Regions from separate parts of the Homo sapiens genome. Here regions 2 and 3 are each linked to region 1. Evidence: fine-mapped expression QTL. A gene starts in region 1. Each other region holds a variant in brackets. All regions are shown on one strand. Distances are from middle to middle. Region 1 holds the start of POMT2 (protein O-mannosyltransferase 2). Region 2 overlaps NOXRED1 (NADP dependent oxidoreductase domain containing 1). Region 3 overlaps POMT2 (protein O-mannosyltransferase 2).

Region 1 (6,828 bases):
TAGGCACAACGTAAGGGACTACATGTTTCTGAGGCAGAAGCCACCACTGCGTGCCAGACTTGTGACTCCTGCCAAAAGTTGGCCTGCTTGTCTTGCAGTAAAGGAAGCCACATTGCAAGGGGCACTGACCACACCTGCTCCTGGGAGATTGACATTAGGACTTTGTTCCCTTCTCTAGGCTCTCATCAGTACCTTGCTACTGCTGATACTTTTTCAGTTTACAGTGCTGATGTTGCTTTTCCAGTCCAATTATCTGACTCTGTGTATACCACTGTGGCCCTTGAAACTAAACTGCCAGGTTTTCTGCTTTCCAAACCATCTACAGTCTGACACTGGCATATCTTTTTGTCGCAATGGCCACCCAACAGTGTCAACAGTCAATAGCCAAGGTATTCGATGGACCTCCCACACTCCCTACCATCCACAGGCATGACATTGTCAAGTACTGAACAGTTCCCTCAAAGATCAACTCAAAAAGATTTTTGATTCTATGTTTTTAACCTCCTCCTGGTCTGCAAACCTTACTGAAGCAGTTTGGTCACCTAAGGCAGCCATTCTCAGAAATGGGTCATCTCCTTTTGCCTACCAACTGGGTAATGATCAGGAAAAAGGGGTGGAGGGTTATATAAACCTATTTTGAAAATGTGAGATTCTCCCCTGACCATTTCTGGCCATGATTCATCTTTCTTCCCCCTTACAGAAAGCCCAGATCAGCTGGGAGGAGGAGGCTATCTATGTAATTCAGACTTAATTCTAGTTCAGTCACTAGATTGTCTTGTTGGAATGGCCTGGTGCCAGAACATAAAGTTAATGATCATTTGGTTGGGTATAGTGCTTTTAAAGTCCCCCTACAGTGGCCCACATGTGTCAAGGTAGAAGACATAATGGGCCTCTGTCAATTTTCTAACAATTGGATATTAGAAGGCCTGCGTATTGGTAGGGGATAAATGGAGAAAAGGTGAAGTTATAGTTACTAGGGTAGGACACACTCATTATGTAGCAATGGAAGGAAAGAAACAATCCTGGCATCTGGGGAAGGAACACCACAGGACCCTGGAGATGTAAAGAGAAGGGAAACAATGTTCTCTTTGTCCCTATCCAGCACCAAAGCCTGGCAAACATTCACATGGTCCATCTAGGTCAAGCAGCAACTGTGGCTGGCAATCTGACCTGTGGCTGAGTTTGTCATCTCACTATGAAAACATAAAAACTTTATCTAGCAGGTCAGTATAAAAAAGAAAATAAAAAAAGAAAACAAAAACTCACATGGACACGGCCAGTCTTGAACTATTCCCACGTGCCTGATGACATCAACACCAACTCCCAAACGCAGACCTCCCTCATAGGTGTGCAAACACACAGATCAGCACCACCTTCTATCAATGCGGCTGATACAAATCACATGCTTCTCCTGAGATCCTAAGGGCCTTACTTAGGTTATGCCTTGTCTAGTGATTGAGGCTGCAACTGTTCAGTGACACTGCCCATGTGGTTTAAACCACTGTAATGGTAATCAAATTTGATGGTGATCCAAATAAAAATCTAACAAAAATCCTGGAGTGGCCTGCACTCCTCCAAGTAATATGTTAGTGTAAGGAAGAATGGGTCACAAAATATCTTTCCATTAATCATGGTAGTTAATTTTTTTTTTTTTTTTTTGAGACAGAGTCTGGCTTTGTCGCCTAGGCTGGAATGCAATGGTGCGATCTTAGCTCACTGCAACCTCTGCTTCCCAGGTTCAAGTGATTCTCCCACCTCAGCCTCCCGAGTAGCTGGGATTACAGGCACCCGCCATCATGCCCGGCTAAGTCTTGTATTTTCAGTTGAGACGGAGTTTCACCATGTTGGCCAGGTTGGTCTCGAACTCCTGACCTCAGGTGATCTGCCCGCCTCGGCCTCCCAAACTGCCGGGATTACAGGTGTGAGCCACTGCGCCCAGCCTGGTAATTACTTTCTTAAAAAAATTTTTACAAGGGTAGTGGGCTATTGTAATTACTGGTAATGACACCAAAGATCAGAGATCAATCTGAACCCCTGTGCACAGGTCACAGTGGTTAATAGACTGGTCTTAGACTGCAGCCCAGATGTCTGAAATAAGATTCCTCGGTGCCCCCAGGACTTATTCACAAGTGGCTGAATCCAGGACCCTGGAGGGCATGGTTGAGGTAAATACTGTAAGCTGGCCTTATTCTGCTGCTTAGAGTCCCATTGACAACAACCTTAATTAAATGCTGTAAGGGACAAACTGAAAAGATGTGAGTAGCCAGGGGAGTTGTATATTCATGTGAAAATCTGCTAGAAGCCAAGACCATAGAATCGAGGAGTGAGAGAGGCTGTCAGATTGCTCGTGCCTCTACACATCATTCTGGGTATACCAAGAATGCAAGGCCCTGACTGCATCTCACCTGGGCCATTTCTCATGGTTGTGTTTGCAGCAAGCAACTTTGAGAGAAGAGGCAGTGTCTCCCTCCAGGACAAAGAGGAGGTCTGCGTACTGCCTTCTATAAAACAGCAGATTTTCCAAGCTTGTCGTTCCTTCACTTGGATGCAACCCACTGCCTGTGCAGTCATCCATTTAAACCCATAGCGTCACCCTGTGGGACTTGGATGGCAAGGGAAACTGCTTCTAACATGCATCCTATTTCCTGTAATAAAGTCCTTTGTCTCTAACCCAGGAGTCTCATCTTCTGCCAGCAGTCACGACACAATAACAAGCTAATTTATTAATTTCTAAATAAAGCAACCCTGACAGTCTGTTTTCTTGCCTGCTTTTTGCTTAAAGAATTCCATTTCTGACACCCAGTATCTGGATAGTACAAGCTAAAACCTTTAAGAAAATAAATCTCTTCTCACAAGAAGAGTTCTGCCTCATAAAATCCTTTGGTCACCATACCTGAACACCCAAACTGTCCTTGCCCTATAGGATAAAGGTACACAGTTAGGTATTTTCTCCTCTGTTGATGCCTGAAAATCCTGCAGACATAGGAACTCAGGCCTTAGAAAATTCTGTACCCAAAAATTTGCAATTCTCTTTGGAAAGTTGAAAGCACCTTTAAAAGCCACAATTTGCAAGCCAGGTGATGCACTGTAGCATAACCTGGAAGACATGAGGGCTGCTTCCTCAGATACTAAGAATCCCACTGCCCCACCACCAGAGCAAAACGATCCCCCTCCCAGAGAATGCACCTCGCCAGAGGCCAACCCACCCGATACCTCAAGTTCCCCTCCACCGTGGCCCTCCTCCTATAGATCCCGCCCCCTCCGTACCCTCGGGCCAATCAGAGGGCGGCGTCCCGTCGCGGTTGCCATGGTGCCCGCCGAGTCCCTCCCATCACTCACCAGATGTGCGGCGGCTCGTCCAAGCGGTGGAAGCGGGTGGCGAAGGACAGCAGCGTCACCAAGGCCAGCAGGGCCCACCAGCCGACCGCCTCGAAGCGCCGTGAGCCCCAAGCAGGCCGTTTGGGGCTTCGCGCCACAGCCTCAGCGGCCACGTCCCGGCCTGCGGCCCTAGCAGCCTGGGGGCCACAGCGGCCCCTCCGGGGACGCAGCTCGGACTCTGCCAGGCCTCCGCCCGTGGCCGGCGGCATCTTCCCCCTCCTCTGGGTCGCCCTCCGGCCCGGAGGCACACTTTGTCTGACCAGCCGCCCCGCCAAGGAGTCACAAGAGGGCAGCTCGGGGTACCCCGGGAAATGCAACGCCCTTCACTGCAGCGGAGCGCGGGGCCCCGGGCTCGGGGCGGGGCGGGCAGCGTGGTCGCGGCCCGGGCCGCTAGGAGGCGGCAGGAGGCGCAGAGCATGTCGGGACCGGGAGGGCCGGCCGGCCCGGGGCGGGGGGGACTGGGCAGGAGGGGTCGGGCTCAGGGAACTGCAACTCCCAGCAGCCCCCAGGTACGGGGCGTGGCGGGAGAGCTGGGCGAGCCAGAGGCGACCGGAAGGATCTTTCTAGTCCAGCCCCTCGCTTTACCCGGACGAAAGACACGGGCCTGATTCGTCGAGTCTCACTGAGCCTTAGTCGTCGGCAGGTCCCAGGCGCGAAGTTTCTCGGCCTGGAGGAGGGGGTCGCGCGAAGTGCCAGATGCAGGCGGGGAAGGTCTGTGACGCGCACCCGGGTGGAGGGAAGCTGGTTAGACACCTGGAGACCCTGGGGGGCGGGGTCAGAAGTGAGCTGCACCGCCCGCCCAGGCCGACAACGACTCCCGGCATGCAGTGCTTTGCGCCGGGCACGCTCTGCGCCTGCGTGCTGCGCGCTGCCCGCTGGGGCTCGAAGTTCCGGGAGGGTTGGGCCAGAGGAGGCGGTCCTGGTAGGGAGTGCGTAGCAGGGTGGAGTCGCTGTCCGGTCGCGCTTCACTTCTGCTCCGCCCTCCCTGCTCCCCATAACAGACCCCTCCCTCCACTAAGGCTTCCAAACGTCGCCCCAAGCCTCCCAATTTCTCGCAGCCCTTCATGCTCTTCTCTTGGCCCTAGCAGGAGGTGACCTTCCAGTAATGTTTGTATTTTAAGAGTCCCCGGGCCGGGCGCGGTGGCTCACGCCTGTAATCCCAGCACTTTGGGAGGCCGAGGCGGGCGGATCACAAGGTCAGGAGATAGAGACCATCCTGGCTAACACGATGAAACCCTGTCTCTATTAAAATACAAAAAAATTAGCCAGGCGTGGTAGCGGGCGCCTGTAGTCCCAGCTACTCGGGAGGCTGAGGCAGGAGAATAGCGTGAACCCAGGAGGCGGAGCTTGCAGTGAGCCGAGATCGCGCCACTGCACTCCAGCCTGGGCGAAAGAGCGGGACTCCGGCTCAAAAAAAAAAAAAAAAGGCCCCGAGCGAGGAGAGGCAGTCATGACAATCACCTGGGGAGCTTCACGGCTTTCACATGTTCTTCCCGGGGCCTGCTCCAGAGCCACTCTGTTCATCTCTGGTGGAACGGGCTCGAGAATCTGCATGTTTTTATAAGCGGTCTAGATGGTTCTTAACGTGCCATGAAGTTTGAGAACCACTTTTGTGGCACTAAGGAAGGTGGCACGTTAGATGGGACTTTGCGTCACGTTAATAATGTATAGTCCTCCCTCTTCCAAATGGGATTTTAGGAGTCTTTTTCTCAAATCATGTGTAAGACATGGTTTAAAAATAAAATCTGCTAAAGTAATCAGAATGCATATTTGAATTGGAAACACAGGTCTTCTAGGAGTGCTGATGAGATGGATACTTGGGCTTAAAGTTTAGTTCTACAAGTGCAGAAAGGAACGGGGCATGGTTTACATAGTTATCACTGGTAAGAGAAGGCAGAAATTGCCTAAGAGATTTCAGGTTTCCTGCTTGTGGGTCGTGACGGAGGGCAGCAGCATTTACCATGCTTCTGGTCACTCGTAGTACAGATCCAAAGGTGTAATCCAAAGGCATTTAGCCATTAGGTAAGGCATTTCTTCAGGGATTCTAAGCTAATTAATGTCTGCCACACTCTAGTGGTCACCAGCAGTCCCTGTCCCTTGGCACCAGGAGTCCCTGTAGCCTGGCTAGGTAAGGAAAGGGAGTTGCATCTCCAAATAAGGAAGATCCAGTTGTGGCCACCCAATTCCTCCTCTTCGAAAGACACTTTCTGCCCATCACCTGCTTTCTGTGCCAGGACCATCTTTACTTTCTCCACAAAAGGTACCTTCAGGACAGGCTGGGACTGCTGGGCTTGGGAACCATCTTGGAAGGGCCTAGGTTCCCACTTACACCCTTGCCATCTAGCAGACTGAGTTGGTAGTACAGGGATGGCAATAGCAAGTTCAGAGAGCAGCTTAATATGCTAGGGGTGGCAGAGGGGAGAGGGAGCTTTGGTGAAATGTCTATAGTCAGAGGGGTAGTAAACAGGGCATCTGAGAAGTTCTTTCAAGTTCTCCCCTATCCATAGGGATACACATGTTTTGGTGGGAAGATTCATGAGTGCTAATCACTGGCGAGTCTTTCCTGGGTTCCACTTTGAAATGCTGGCTCCCGAAGAAGTACCAGAGAAATTAACTTTGAGCCCCTTAAACCTTGGAGTAGAGATCGCACACCCAGCTGCCCCCAAGGGCCCAAAGGTAACAAAAATGAGAAAAGTGGGCCAGATATGGGCCATGGCAGACCTGAGAGCGCATACGCTGGTTGATGGGGGCCATTAGTCTGTTCCCATCAATTGCTGCTATTTAGGAACCCAAATCTGTCTCCAGATTTTTTTAAAGAAAAAAAACAAACAGGTGTTGTATATAAAATATCATGATTTTTATTTTTATTTTATTTTATTATTTATTTATTTTGAGATGGAGTCTTGCTCTGTCCCCCAGGCTGGAGGGCAGTGACACGATCTTGGCTCACTGTATCCTCCGCCTCCTGGGTTCAAGCAATTCTCATACCTCAGCCTCCCAAGTAGGTGTGATTACAGATGCACACCACCACACCTGGCTAATTTTTGTTTAGCCATGTTGTTTCGCCATGTTGGCCAGGCTGGTCTCGAACTCCTGACCTCAGGTGATCTGCTGGCCTCAGCCTCCCAAAGTGCTGGGATTACAGGCATGACCCACCATACTAGAATGAAATGTCCTGATTTTTAAACATTGGCAACTACTTGAAACATTTTAAACTACTGTGTTGAGCAAACAGAAATTCTGAGGGCCAGATAGGGCCCCAGTGAGCTGCCAGCTTTTGACCTCACCTTTGGGGTGAGTGAGCATATCTGCCAGCTGTTTTTATGGGGACAGCCGAGAGCCCGGAGGACTGCTGGGAGGTGGGGTTGAAGGAGATATGTACCAAAGCGTCAAAAAATTAGAATTCCTTGTCTTGCTGCATTGCTAGAGGATGCCCTGCCATCATTTTAG
Region 2 (7,254 bases), 78 kb after region 1:
ATACAGCCACAAGACTCCCACAGTCAATTGTGATAATCAGGGCACAACTATTATAGGGAAAATCTGTGAGTGGGAAAAAATCCTGATTCCTGAGTTCTCTTATTGGGATGGAAAGCCTGTGGAAATGACTGGCTGTTCTTTGGTTAGGGAGATGCCAAATGAAGCACAGTATAGATGGGTAAGGTGGTCTTGGAGAACAGGACTACTTGAGAGATGCTGGCTAAACGGAGTTTCCTTGAGTTGCACAGCAGTCAGATCAAACCAGGGGAAAGGCCTGAGGTGAAAAAAATATTGTTACTTTTTTATGTCTGTTCAGTATATCTGATTTGGCTGTTAAACACATCTTTTAAAGAAAGTTTTCCTCATTACCTTTTCATAAACTAGAAACATTAATACCTTTTCATAAACTAGAAATTCAGCTAGAACTAGTCAATGTGTAGATTTAAGTGTACTTAATGGTGATTTCTCACACTTATGTACATTTCTCTAAGTGCATTTGGAGAGGAATTCATTGTTAAAGAATTATTATAATATTAACATTGACACCCTTTGCAGAAAATTTTTCTTTTTTTTCTTTCTTTTTTTTTTTTTTGAGATGGAGTCTTGCTCTGTCGCCCAGGCTGGAGTGCAGTGGCGCGATCTCGGCTCACTGCAAGCTCTACCTCCCAGGTTCATGCCATTCTCCTGCCTCAGCCTCCCGAGTAGCTGGGACTACAGGCGCCCGCCACTACGCCCAGCCAATTTTTTTGTATTTTTAGTAGATACGGGGTTTCACCGTGTTAGCCAGGATGGTCTCAATCTCCTGACCTTGTGATCTGCCCGTCTCGGCCTCCCAAAGTGCTGGGATTACAGGCGTGAGCCACTGCGCCCGGCTGCAGAATATTTTTCTCGAATTTAGAAAGAACATATATAAGATCGTGGACATTAAGCAAGGAAGAAGTCTAATTGCTTTTAAGATATCCTCTTTAGCTGTATAGATTAAAAAGTAGGCTGGGCACAGTGACTCATGCCTGTAATCCTAGCACTTTGGGAGGCCAAGGCAGCAGGATCACTTGAAGTCAGGAGTTTGAGACCAGCCTGGACAACATAATGAGACCTCATCTGTACAAATTAAAAAAAAAATTAGCTGGATGTGGAGGGACACACCTGTAGTCCCAGCTACTCAGGAGGCTGAGGTGGGAAATTGCTTGAGCCCAGCAGGTCGAGGCTGCAGTGAGCTATGATCACACCACTGCACTCTAGCCTGGGCTACAGAGTGAGACCCCCATCTCTAAAAAAACAGAGAGGAAAGTTAATATGCAAATGAATACCTAACGGGGCAACATTAAGTATTAGTCTATAGTGTAATTCAAGTTAAAAAGCCTTAAGACATAGGGTTTCAATATTTTTCAAAAGATCAGGAGAGACAGGCATGATGGTGCGCACCTGTAGTCCCAGCTACTCAGGAGGCTGAGAGAAGAGGATTGCTTGAGCCCAGGAGTTCAAGGCCAGCCTGGGCAACATAGTGAGACCCTGTCTGTTAAAAAAAAAATCAAGAGTAAGGCTAAGGCAAAGATACCTGCTCTCACCAGTCTTATACAGAATAGTACTAGAAGTTCTAGGCAATGCAATAAGGCAAGAAAAGGAAATTAGAAGGCATGGACATTGGAAAGGAAGAAATGAAACCGTCTCTATTTATACATGACATTATTATCTATGTAGAAAACTCCAAGGAATCTTTTTTTTTTTTTTTTTTGAAATGGAGTTTCGCTCTTGTTGCCCAGGCTGCAGTGCGATGGTGTGATCTCAGCTCACCACAACCTCCGCCTCCTGGGTTCAAGTGATTCTCCTGCCTCAGCCTCCCAAGTAGCTGGGATTACAGGCATGCACCACCATGCCTGGCTAATTTTGTATTTTTAATAGAGATGGGGTTTCTCCATGTTCATCAGGCTAGTCTGGAACTCCTGACCTCAGGTGATTCACCTGCCTCGGCCTCCCAAAGTGCTGGGATTACAGGCATGAGCCACCGCACCCAGCCCAAGGAATCTATTTTTAAAACCTCCTAGAACTAATGAATTCAGCAAGGTTGCAGGATACAAAATAAACATACAAATATCAATTGTATTTATATACAATAGTGATAAACATGTGGACACCAAAATTGAAAATGTTTTTTCATTTATTGTCACTCCAAAAAATGATATACTTAGATGTAAATCCAATAAAACATGTACAAGACTTGCATAATAAAAACTATAAAATGCTGATGAAAGCAAAGAATATCTAGAGAAACATACTATATTAATGAGTGGGAAAACTCAACAAAATTAAGATGTCAGTTTTCCAAAAATTGATCTATAGATGTAATCACAAAATAAAAATTATTGCCAACACCAGTTGCTGGTGAGGATGCAGAGAAACTGGATTATACATTGCTAGTGATAATATAAACTGGTACTACTGTGAAAAACAATTTGGCAGTGTCTTAAAAAAATAAATATGCAACTACCAAATGACAATAATTACACTCCTGGTCATTCATTCCAGGTAAGTGGACACTTATGTTCACACAAAAGCCTGTACATGAATGTTCATAACACCCTTATTCATAATAGCCAAAAACTGGAATCAACCCAGATGTCCTTCAACAGGTGAATGGTTAAACAAATTGTGATACAGCCATGCCGTGGAATATTATTCAGCAATAAAAGCCAACTATTAATACACATAACAACTTGGATGAATCTCCAGAGACTTGCTGAATGAAAAAAGCCAGTTTCAAAAGGTGGCATACATATGATTCCACTTATATAACATTCTTGAAATGACAAAATTATAGGAATGAAGAACACATTAGAAGTTACCAAGTTTGCAGCTGTGAGGAGGCAACATGAAGAATTCGTTAGTGAAAGAACTGTTCTATATCTTAACTGTATCAATGTCAGTATCCTGGCTGTGATATTGTGCTACAGTTTTGCAATATCTATTTCCATTGATGGAAAATGGGTAAATGGGTACATGAGATTTCACTATTATTTCTTAACAATTTCATGTGACTCCGTATTTATCTCAAAATA[A/G]AGAAAAAAATTATCTTGGCTGGGTGCGGTGGCTCACACCTGTAATCCCAGCACTTTGGGAGGCCAAGGCAGGCGGATCATTTGAGGTCAGGAGTTCAAGACCAGGCTGGCCAACATGGTGAAACCCTGTCTCTACTAAAAATACAAAAAAGTCAGCCAGGCTTACTGGCTGTAATCCTAGCTACTCAGGAGGCAGAGGCAGGAGAATTGTTTGAACCTGGGAAGCGGAGGTTGCAGTTAGCCGAGATTGCACCACTCACTCCAGCCTGGGTGACAGAGCTAAAACTCCATCTCAAAAAAAAAAAAAAAAAATACTTGAATTCCAGTTTCTGGTCTGACATGTAAGAAGCTAGAAGTTGCCACTCTATCCTAACAATAATTAAAAAGCTGAACTAAAAAATCAATAACTCTTTTAGATGTGTAAGAGAGGTAGGGTCAAGGGCAAACTACTCTCCCTAAGACTGCAGGGACCAGAACACAAATGCTCAGAAGTAGCTTGCTGGAGGAGAAACCCATGAGCTGAAACCTCTATGGGAACCCAGTGCCAAGATAGGGAACCCGGAACTGTAACTGACAAATTGCTGGAGGTTCAGAGTGGACAAGTCTGAGAATAAAAATGTCAGACTTGGGGGACCCAATCACTGGGGACCCTCACACTTATGATTTTTACCTCTAGGAGCTCAACCAGGTTCTCAGTGATATCTGAGAAAAATCCCCTTGTGCTTCCATCAAAGGGAGAGGAAAATAAACCATTTTGAAATATGGCAGAGCATTCTGTTCTTAGCAAGGTCTGCCCTTGGGAGAAACTATTTAACCAGAGCCAAACCTTCTGGGGTTTTATCTGAGCCTAACTGACCTGGGGGAAGAGAAATAGCCAGTTCCAGTCAGGTCTACCCTTCCACGTGGAAGGAGGAATGGGCTCCTCAACTCCAGCCCACTTTAGCCATCCTGTTCCACTGAAGAAGGAGAAAAATCCTGAGAAACACTTGTGAAGTTCACAGTCCAGAGTACAGGCTCACTCAAAGACTGAGACCTACCCGTAGGACTATAGAACACTTCCCCTCCTCAACTCCTTACTACATTATTAAAGACCTATTTACAGGCCGGGTGCGATGGCTCATGCCTGTAATCCCAGCATTTTGGGAGGCTGAGGCGGGCAGATCATGGTGTCAGGAGTTCGAAACCAGCCTGGCCAACATGGTGAAACCCCATCTCTACTAAAAATACAAAAATTAGCTGGGTGTGGTGGCGGGCACCTGTAATCCCAGCTACTCAGGAGGCTGAGGCAGGAGAATCGTTTGAACTCAGGAGGCGGAGGTTCCAGTGAGCCAAGATCGCGCTATTGCACTCCAGCCTGGGCAACAGGGCAAGACTCCGTCTCAAAAACAAACAAAAAAAAGCCTATTTACAGCAGTTCTTTTTACCTGGTACATCATGTCTGACTATCCAGAAAAAGTTAACAGGCATACTAAAAGCCAAAAAACAAAAAACCACCAAAACCCACAATTTGAAAAGGTAGAACAAGCATCAGAACCACATATGAGAGGAATACTGGAATAATCAGACTGGGAATTTAAAATAACTATGACTGAGGCCAGGTGAGGTGACTCCTGTAATCCCAGCAATCTGGGAGGCCGAGGTGGGAGGATTGTTTGAGCCCAGGAATTCAAGCTTGGGCAACAAAGTGAGACCCCAGTCTCTACAAATAATAAAAAAAACTAGCCAAGCATGGTGGCATGTGCCTGTGGTCCAGCTACTCGGGAGAGGTGGGAGGATCACTTGAGCTCGGGAGATTGTAGCTGCAGTGAGCAGTGATCATGCCACTGCACTCCGGCCTGGGTAACAAAGCAAGACCCTGTCTCAAAAAATAAAATAACTATGACTAATATGCTAAAGGATCTAATGGATAAAGTAGACGGCAGACTACGGAAGCAGAAAGATGGAAGTTCCAGGAACCAAAAATAAATACTACTCATTAAAAACACTGTGACAGATATGAAGAATATCTTTGAGGCCCCTATTAGTAGACTGTTCATGGCCGAGGAAATAATCTCTGAATCTGAGGATATCTCAACAGAAACCTCCAAAACTGAAAAGCAAAGAAAACAAAGACGAAAAATACAGAACAAAATATCCAAGGACTGTGGGACAACTACAAAAGATGTAACATGCGCATAATGAGACTAGAAGGAGGAGAGAAAGGACACAAGAAATATTTGAAACAATAATGACTGAGAATTTCCCCCAAATTAATGTCAGACACCAAACCACAGATCTAGGAAGCTCAAGAAGACACCAAGCAGGATAAATAACAAAAACACACAAGAAACTATACCTAAACATATCATTTTGAGACTACAGAAAAACAAAAAATCTTGAGATAAGCCAGAGGGAAAAAAAACACCATACCCATAGAAAAACAAAGATAAGAAAGCTGATTTTTAGGATCATGCAAGCAAGGAGAGAGTGCAGTGAAATATTTAAAGTGCAGGAAGAAAAAAAATCACTAACCTAGAACTCTGTGCAAAGTTATCCTTCTAAAGTGAAGGAGAAATAAAGACTTTACCAAACAAAAATTGAGGGAATTTGTTGCCAGTAGACCTGTCTTGCAAGAAATGTTCAAAGAAGTTCCTTAGGAGGAAAATGATATAGGTCAGAAACACGGATCTACATAAAGAAAAGAAGAGCACTGAAGAAGGAACAAGTGAAGATAACTTTAGTTTTTCTTACTCCTAACTGATCTAACAGATAACACTGTAAACCAGAAAGTATCTGAGACAAGCATCAGTCAATTTAGAAAGTTTATTTTGCCGAGGTTGTGGCTATGTGCCCGTGACACAGCCTCAGGAGGTTCTGATGACATGTGCCCAAGGTAGTCGGGGCACAGCATGGTTTTATACATTTTAGGAATACAGGAGACATCAATCACTATATGTAAGATGTACATTGGTTTGGTCTGGAAAGGTGGGACAACTTCAAGTGGGGCGGGGGTTTCCAGGTCATAGGTAGATAAGAGACAAACGGTTTTATTCTTCTGAGTTTTTGATGAGCCTTTCACTGAATACACAATTTACAGGAATAGTCTCTTATGACTTAGAATGGCTTAGTGAAGCAATAGGGCAAATGTTTAAATGTATGTTGCAAAGTTGTAGGATACAAGATTAATATGCAAAAGTCAGTGTCTTTTCTATATACCAGCAATGAACAAGTGGAATTTAAAATTAAAAACACATTACCATTTATATTAGAACCCCCAAAATGAAATACTTAGGTATAAATCAAATGAAATATGTGCAAGATCTACATAAGGAAAACTATGAAACTGATGAGAGAAGTCTAAAAACAACAAAATAAATATAGAGATTTCATGTTCATGGAGAAGAAGACTCAATACTATAAAGATGCCAGTTCTTCCCAACTGAACTACACATTCAACGCAATGCCAATCAAAATCCCAGGAAATTATTTTGTGGATATTGAAAAATTGACTCTATAGTTTAAATGGGGCCAGGTGCAGCAGCTCATGCCTGTAATCCCAGCACTTTGGGAGGCCGAGGTGGGTGGATCACGAGGTCAGGAGTTTGAGACCAGCCTGGCCAACATGGTGAAACCCCATCTCTACTAAAATACAAAAATTAGCTGGGCATGGTGGCGGGTGCCTGTAATCCCAGCTACTGGGGAGGCTGAGGCAAGAGAATTGCTTGAACCCAGGAAGCAGAGGTTGCAGTGAGCCAAGATGGCGCCACTGCACTCCAGCATGGGCAACAGAACAAGACTCCACCTCAAAAAAAAAAAGTTTAAATGGAAGAGCAAAAGACTCAGAACAGGCTGGGTGTGACGGCTCATGCCTGTAATTCCAGCACTTTGGGAGGCTGAGGCAGGAGGATCACTTGAGGCCAGGAGCTTGAGACCAGCCTGGGCAACATAGCAAGATCCCATCTCTACAAAAAAATATAAAAAATCAGCTGGGCACAATGGTGTGCACCTGTAGTTCTGTAGTTCTAGCTACTCAGGAAGCTGAAGTGGGAGGATTGCTTGAGCCCAGAAGGTTGAGGATGCAGTGAGCCATGATCGTGCCACTGCACCCCAGCTGGGGCAGCAGAGCAAGACCTTGTCTCAACAACAAACAAGACTCAGAATAGCCAACTCAGTATTGAAATGGAAGAACAAAGTCAGAGGAGTAACACTACCCAACTTC
Region 3 (7,254 bases), 41 kb before region 1:
TGGTTGGTCTGAATGCCCAAGCATGGCCAGAAGCTTCCCTCCCCACCACCCAGTAGGTAGCACAGCCTGTCCCTGGGACCAATATCCAGTCTCCGTGGCAACCGCCTCCTGAAGATGCTTTAAAGAGATCTGACCCTGTCAGAGTTGTTGGGAGCTTCAGAGGAGGGAAAATGGAGTGTGGCGGATTCATCATTAAATATTGAAGCATCAAAGTCCTCTGAGACAAAAGAAATATTTTGTCATGCACCAGGAAGGTGGAGGCAGGCTTAAGGGCTGGCCTTGGGTGGTTTGGTTCTACCACAGGGTTTTCTTCATCCCTTTTGGGGAGGAAGTGGAAGGGGCAGCTCTGAGCTTCTTGTTTGAGCTGCAGAGTGGTAGACGCAGGAAGCTGGCATGCATTTCTAGGTGCCATGGGTCTTCACTGCTGAAGCAGTGACAGAGAGAAAGGGAATTGCCCACGGAGTGAGGGAGGGGTGAGCAGAGGAGGACTGCAGAAGTGACACTGGGAAAGCTCAGCAGGTGACAGGAACATTAGTCTGGAGAGGCCAGAGTCCCCACATCCCAGCACCACGCAGATTCCCTGCCCTGTCTCTCATCTACCTTGGGCGCTAAGCAAGGTTCCCATGGGCTCTCCCAGCAGCCAGGAGAATGCATCTGCCTTGCCCTCCAGGCCAGGCTAGATGCACTTGGAGAGACCTGGCCTCTGGCACACAGGGCCTGGGAACACTGAGCAGCCCAGGATAGGACATCGTTCCTCCCGAGTGTCACAGTGTGACAATCCCAAAAAACGAGGAACCAAGGGCTAAGGCAGGCTGACGCTCCGGAGTCCGCTGCTCTCTGTGCGTCACAGGCAGGAAGTCCAGCTACCTGCAGCCACTGGGGGGCATGGTGGGAGCCAGGCCCTCCAGCTCGGGGCGGCGCGCCTTCCTCCACGCTGGATTCATTTGTTTGTGGGAGGGAGGGCAGCACAACTTTGACAGTCCCATCTGCTCTGCCTTTGGTGACATCCCAAGGTGAGGTCAGTATTCTCTGCCCTCAAGGCCCTCTCAGAGGTCTGAGAATTTTTGATGGATCTTACAAACCAAAACCAAAGAAATCCAACAGAAAAAAATACCAGAAAATATTACTATAGCCTGGACTATTTTAGAGTTTATGACACTCAGCTGTCCAGTTACACGGTCTGTATTCCACAGGGATATGGACAACATGCCCTCACATACACACACGCGCACCCACTCCCACCCTCTGGCACCCATCCTCCCCTGCGCTGTGCACGAGGGAGCAGCCCAAGAGGCGCTGTCCTCTCCGTGGTGCTGTGGACGGAGCTGCGGCTCTCTCCCGGCTCTCTCCAATGCTGGGTTCCATTCCAGCTGCACTCCCAGAGCTGGGTCCTGGTGAGCAGCAGAATTCTTCGGGCTCCTTAGGCAGCTTCCTCATGGCCGGATGGTCCAGTACTGCTTCCCAGCTGGCTCTCCTGGGAAGTTCCTGGACCCAGGCTGGAATCTTTGCAGTGGCCTCAAAAGTCCCATGAGTCCAGCCACCTTAGTCCTGCCATTGGACTTTGGGGGTCCTGGGCCAGGGGACCAACCATCCCGTAAGCCAGAGGGTGGAAGAGGTAGAAGCTGTGAGAGAGAACCAGTAGGAGGCAGTTGGCACCCCCAGTGCCTCAGCTGAGGGGCTTTGAATTCCATTCCTCCTGCTGGAGCTCCAGAGAAATTCCCCATCGCCAAGCCCGGTTCTCTTTCACGGCCTTGTCTGTCTGAGTCCCACTGGGGCACACTGTAGCTGGAGAGCTTAGTAGATGCTGACTCAATGACAATCATGGAAAGGGCTCTTCCCAAGAGGCCCAGGAGGGCAACCCTTCTAGGGGTCTTGTCATGGGCTATTTGGCCAGGGGTGTTTGTCAACATGTGAATGTAACCCTCTTAGGCAGGCATGTGCTCACAGGCCACAGGCCCAGCACCAAGGCCAGGGACTGGGGAAGCGGGGAGCCTTCCAAACAACTCTCCCTTTCAGCCACTCAGCCACACACTTCCCATTCCCACCCTTCCCACCCCACCCGTCGAGAGCTCTTCCGGCAGGGGGCCACAGTGACTAAAGAGGGGTGCCCTGTCCCCCATTGCCCCCCGGTTCCCCCCTCCCTCACCCGGAGAGCTGTTCTGACAGGGGGCCATGGTGACTAAAGAGGGGTTCCCTGCCCCCCATTCCCACACTCCCCCTCTGAGAGCTGTTCTGGCACAGAGTCACTGTCACTAGAGGGGTACCCTTCCAGGTGCGCTGGGATGGCACAAAAGCTGAACCACCGGCAGAAGGGGAAAAGGCAGAGTTAAGCCCTGCTTCTCCTACCTGGCTGCACATTAGGATCACCTGGGGGACTCTGGAAACCACGGCCCCACCTGGGCTTGGGTGACGCAGAACCTCCAGGCATGGGCACTGGTGGTGTTAAAAGCACCGCAGGGGATTCTCGAATGCATCAGGGCTGAGGCACTGCTGAGCCCACACTGGGAGGGCATGTGAGGTGCAGAGATGCTCACCTGTAGGCAGTTCCCAGGAGCAGGCTCAGGATTCCCGCCACATGTATGCCCCTCGCCAGGGGCCATGAGGCCAAGCCCCAGGCACAGAGCCGCAGGAGGGTGTCCCACAGAATGCCTAGAGGAGAGGAGAGAAACCTGGAGTCAGCCAGGCAGGGGGTGACTTCTGGGCTACAGAAGAAGGAGGCACTCCAAGTCAAGGAGCAGAGAGTCACTCCCAGCACTGCTGCCCCACAGTGGCCTCCCGTCAAGGAGCAGAGTCACTCCCAGCACTGCTGCCCAACAGTGGCCCGCCCTCCACCTGCTCTGTCTCCCAAGTCCAGGTGGGTGGCACTGACCTGTCAACATGCTTGAGAAGAGCATGGCTGGGAAGTAGTGGTGGAAGTAGAGGACCCGGCCCATCAGGAAAAACGGGAAGTAATGGAGTGTCCAGCCGAGCAGGACCTGGCCGCCTCCTCGAAGCAGGACCTGGGACAACCCTGGGCCCAAGCAGCACAGCCCAGTCAGAAGACAAGGAGCGGGCAGAGATTCCAGGCTCTGGTCCAGCTCTGCCCCTTCCTTGCTGTGTGACCTTGAATATGTCATATCACCTCATTGGACCAACCCAAACCACGCTACAGAAACTGGAGAGGAGCAGCTGGG[G/A]CTCGAGAGCTCTGGTCAGGGCCCAGCCTAGTGAGGCCTGGGCACCAATGGCAGGTGCACCAAGCACCAGCAGGAGGCAGCCCAGCCTCTAAAGAAACCCTTCTGCGCCTGCAGACAGCTTCACTCCCTACTTCCACCTCCCACATCTTTGCTGCCACACAGATCTTTGCAGCGGCAGACAGGCGCTAAGGTGAGGTTACAGGTGAGGATGGAGTGAGGAGGTGTCTGGGACTATGACTGTTCAGACAGAGAGCTGCAGAGGCAAAAGGGCCTGTGTGACTGTCTCAGGTGCTGTGGCCCATGGTCTGGCAGCCAAAGTTACCAAGAACAGCACTGGGATGGGAACTCAATAACCCTGGAGGCTCCTCTCTAGCCCATGAGAGGACAGGGCCATGGAACAAGGAGGTGGCAGAAAAGATGGGCAGCTCTGTACACAGCATGGGGCTAAAAGTGAGGGCTGTGGAGTCAGATTGCACGGGTTTGAGCCTCAGCTCTATCACTTACTAGCTGTATGTCCTGGGGCAAGTTTCTTAATCTCATGGTTCCTTGGTTTCCTAATCCATAAAATGGGGGTCATAATAGCCAACGCTCTAGTGTTGTTGGGAGGAAGTAAAGTGTTTAACACAGCACTGGGTACTTGGGGGTTGTTACCTTTCAAAAGCAAAGGATAAGGGAAGGTGTGGGGTGGTAAACGCAAAGGATGGCCCATCAGCAGGCAGCCGGCCCTCCCCAGGGGTGCAGGTGCCCTGCTGCCGCCAGGTCAGGGGAGGGAGAGCCCAGAGGACCTGACCTGCAACCTCCGCTGGCAGCCGTGCCCCTCTCTGCATGGCTACAGCAATGATGCTCCCTGAGAGGAGGTAGAGGGCGATGCTCAACAGATTCAGCCACCAAACCACCTGTGCAGAAATGGGAATGGGCAGATGAGAACGCAGCCGCTCTCCACGGGCAAGTGCTCCAGGGCCTGAGCCGGGAATGTTTAGGCACTCACCGGGTTGCCAAGCAGATAGACTCGGAAATCTGTGTCATTGACCCCTGAGAAGCGTAGGCCCTGTGGAATAGAGACCACCCTGCTGACCCAGGCCCAGCCCATCCTCGGCCACACCCATTAGGGGGAGGAAGATGGTCACCTTCCACAGACAGGGAGCCTGGACACGAACCTCAGGCTGGCAAATTCTACACGAGCTCTCTGGGAAGCAGGGTCAGAATTAGGGCAGAAAACAGATACTCCCACCTCTGGCCAACCCATCCCAGGAGGCCCCTCGCCCTGCCGCCCTAGTACACCCACCCCCGCCTCCACCGGTCTCCCTGCTCTTGTTCTTGGCTCCATTTCCTGGGAGGAGCCCCAGCCTTGGATCCTACCTGATAGTTGATAGGCCAGTGCCAGGGTTTGGACGTGAACTCATTGTCCTTGGGTTTGAGGCCACTGTTCCCCTGCATGAAGGTAGCAAAGAAAGCTAGTCAAGACAGAGATCTAGAGGGCTGACAGAAATGTGGGGCCCAGGTTTTTCTGATATAGGGCCAAGCGCCGAGCAGAACCTTCTCTCCTTCCCTTCCCTTGCAGGGAAGAATCAGGCAGCTGCTGTCTGCCTACCTACGACACTTGCTTTACTTCTCCCAGACAAGCCTCCATCTCCCATAAGGGGTCCATTCCAACCTTCTAGGGAAAAAGAAGGGAAAGAGGAAATTGTTCCAATGGGCACAAAATATATACCCATCTGCCAAGCTAAGGACAAGGTGTGAAAATGGTGGGAGAGAGGGGATATAAAATGAGGCTTACAGCCGGGTGCAGTGGCTCATGCCTGTAACCCCAGCACTTTGGGAGGCCGAGGCGGGTGGATCACCTGAGGTCAGGAGTTCAAGACCAGCCTGGCCAACATGGTAAAACCCCGTCTTTACTAAAAAATACAAAAAATTAGCTGAGCGTAGCGGTGGGTGCCTGTAATCCCAGCCACTTGGGAGGCTGAGGCAGGAGAACCACTTGAACCCAAGAGGCGGAGGTTGCAGTGAGCTGAGATCATGCCATTGCACTCCAACCTAGGCAAAAAGACCAAGACTCAGTCTCAAAATAAATAAATAAATAAATAAATAAATAAATAAATAAATAAATAATAAGGCTTACTTATTTGTTCCCTTCAGGGGCCAATTTCAAACAGAAAAGCAGAAACTCTCATGCGTGCCTAGACTTGGAAGAGGTTGCTTTAGCTTAGTGCTTCTCCACCTTTTTTTTCCACTACTGCCCCTCTACCAGGAGCCTTTGTAGACAAGTTTCTCCCTAAACACACTCCATGACATTTTAATACTTTATACTGTACATCTTACTTGTGCTTTATACATAAAAAATTAGATATTTTGCCCTCCAAGAACACATTTCATCTATTGGGAGAGAAATCAACCCTAATGCATGCTTTGGTTTGAAGGACCCAGACTCAGCCTCCCTAATCCAGCAGCCAAGAACATCTGCTAACCTTTCTCTACAGGGCAAACCAGGTCTTTGCTAAAACAGGAAGGAGTAGGGTCAGGATCCAGGATATTAACCACTAGGACTGGGTTCTGCCTTATCACTGGGACAGACTGAAAAGGCATTTCCCCAGAAGGGGAGTCAGCTGCCATGACTTAGGCCGGAGCTTCTCCACCTCAGCACTCCCAACATTTCGGGCTGGATGAGTCTTTGCTGTGAGGACTGTCCCGTGCATTGCAGAGTGTTTAGCATTCCTGGCCTCCACTCACTGAATGCCCGTAGCACTCCTACCCTCAACCCCTCAGTTTCCCAGCCAAAAATTTCTCCACAGATGGCCAAAAGTCCCGAGAGGCAAAATCACCCTCAATTAAGAACCACTGGTATAGCCTAAGAAAGACCCAGAAAGTTCAGTGGACTGCCACCCAGTGCCTTATGAATCCAGTTCAGCAAGGGGCTGGGAATAGTTTACAGGCCTCTACATGGTGGAGAGGTTGTGCCTCCAAGGTCAAAAGTGCATCCAGGGCATCAGACACAAAGGGGACAGCTGCACGGCCCCAGCGTCACTGCGGCCCTTTGAAGGACCTGGGAATGAGGAATGAATCATTCTGGACCCCTGCGGCAGTTGCTGAGGGAAACCAATTCCTTCAAATTGTACAGTTTGGTCCCAAACCCAAGGACTCCAGCCAGAACTGTACCAAGCCAAGGGAATCTTATTCACTACATTAAACTCTGAGAAATCCTGCTCTGTTGCTAAACTAAAAGAGGAAAGAAAAATCTGCAACCATCACAGGCATATGTACTTGTAAGTTGTTCTCTATGGCTGAAATCTGGATGGGCTCATTCCTGTAACTGCACCAGGCAAGGCAGCCTTCTCCTCCAGGTCCCGGGCCACTACTCAGCCAGCGGAAGAGCCCTGCCCCTGCAGTTTCTATAGTCTGGACTCACTGTTTTCATCTCTCTCCCCTCCCTGACTCTTTGTTGGCTGAATAAGAAAGCTCTCATTACTTCCCTTTTCTTCTCTGACTCTACTTCTTAGATAATGAAAGACAAAATGAAACTCGTAGATTTAGTCTTAAAATTTGACCCAGGCCCAGAATGATATTCTGACTGACAGGCACATGTTCAAAAGAGCTATGTCATCAGGCCACAGTGACAGCTACAAGCAGAGAGTCAGAAAGGAAGTGACCCAGAGATGCTTAATGTCAACTTATCACCTCCCAATGCGCAAAAATGACAAAATTTGAATTTTTAAAATTTAATCTGGTGAAATAAGTCAACTATATGTACTGAGTACTGCTTACATAATCACTTCCAGGGAAGTCCACTTGACAATGGCTTACCAGGGGAAAAATAACAAGTGCTACACCTCCCTGCAATGCTGTGGGTAGAGTGATAATCACATATCTGGCTTGAGATAGTGATTCTTAAACATTATTCCTGCAGAACACAGGTTTTCCATAAGCCAGAATAAGGGGGTCTTCCACTAAACAGCAGGACTACAGCAGGGGAAAATTTAAGCTAGTGAGTAGAATTTTCTCAATTTAAAGATTTCTTCTCTGAATTTTTCTTAAACCTTTGATGCTACAACTGCTGTCAGCTACTAATGATAGAGAGTGCAAACAA

The links. PIP is the estimated chance that this variant, and not a neighbour inherited with it, causes the effect. A credible set is the group of variants that fine-mapping cannot tell apart.
Region 2: its variant is the best candidate, but not a certain one, in a credible set for the expression of POMT2 in lung (TOPMed, PIP 0.61).
Region 3: its variant is the best candidate, but not a certain one, in a credible set for the expression of POMT2 in tibial nerve (GTEx, PIP 0.77).

The regions. Positions count from the first base shown.
Region 1 is chr14:77,317,095-77,323,922 of GRCh38, forward strand. It overlaps POMT2 (protein O-mannosyltransferase 2), which reads right to left and starts at 3,789. Exons shown (of 21, transcript NM_013382.7): 1 at 3,340-3,789. The coding sequence starts at 3,587. GSTZ1 (glutathione S-transferase zeta 1) reads left to right here and starts at 3,942. Exons shown (of 9, transcript NM_145870.3): 1 at 3,942-4,089. The coding sequence starts at 4,075. RefSeq lists silencers at 3,276-3,325, 3,556-3,935 and enhancers at 4,016-4,285, 4,163-5,024, 4,556-4,605.
Region 2 is chr14:77,394,532-77,401,785 of GRCh38, forward strand. NOXRED1 (NADP dependent oxidoreductase domain containing 1) reads right to left here. Exons shown (of 6, transcript NM_001113475.3): 6 at 1-274. The coding sequence ends at 100. Among named protein-coding and RNA genes, the nearest start is that of SAMD15, 21 kb to the left of the region's middle. The variant A/G (reference allele first, on the strand shown) is at 3,057.
Region 3 is chr14:77,275,860-77,283,113 of GRCh38, forward strand. It overlaps POMT2 (protein O-mannosyltransferase 2), which reads right to left. Exons shown (of 21, transcript NM_013382.7): 16 at 4,533-4,604; 17 at 4,162-4,221; 18 at 3,964-4,069; 19 at 2,870-3,010; 20 at 2,535-2,649; 21 at 1-1,622. The coding sequence ends at 1,517. Among named protein-coding and RNA genes, the nearest start is that of NGB, 8.3 kb to the left of the region's middle. The variant G/A (reference allele first, on the strand shown) is at 3,174.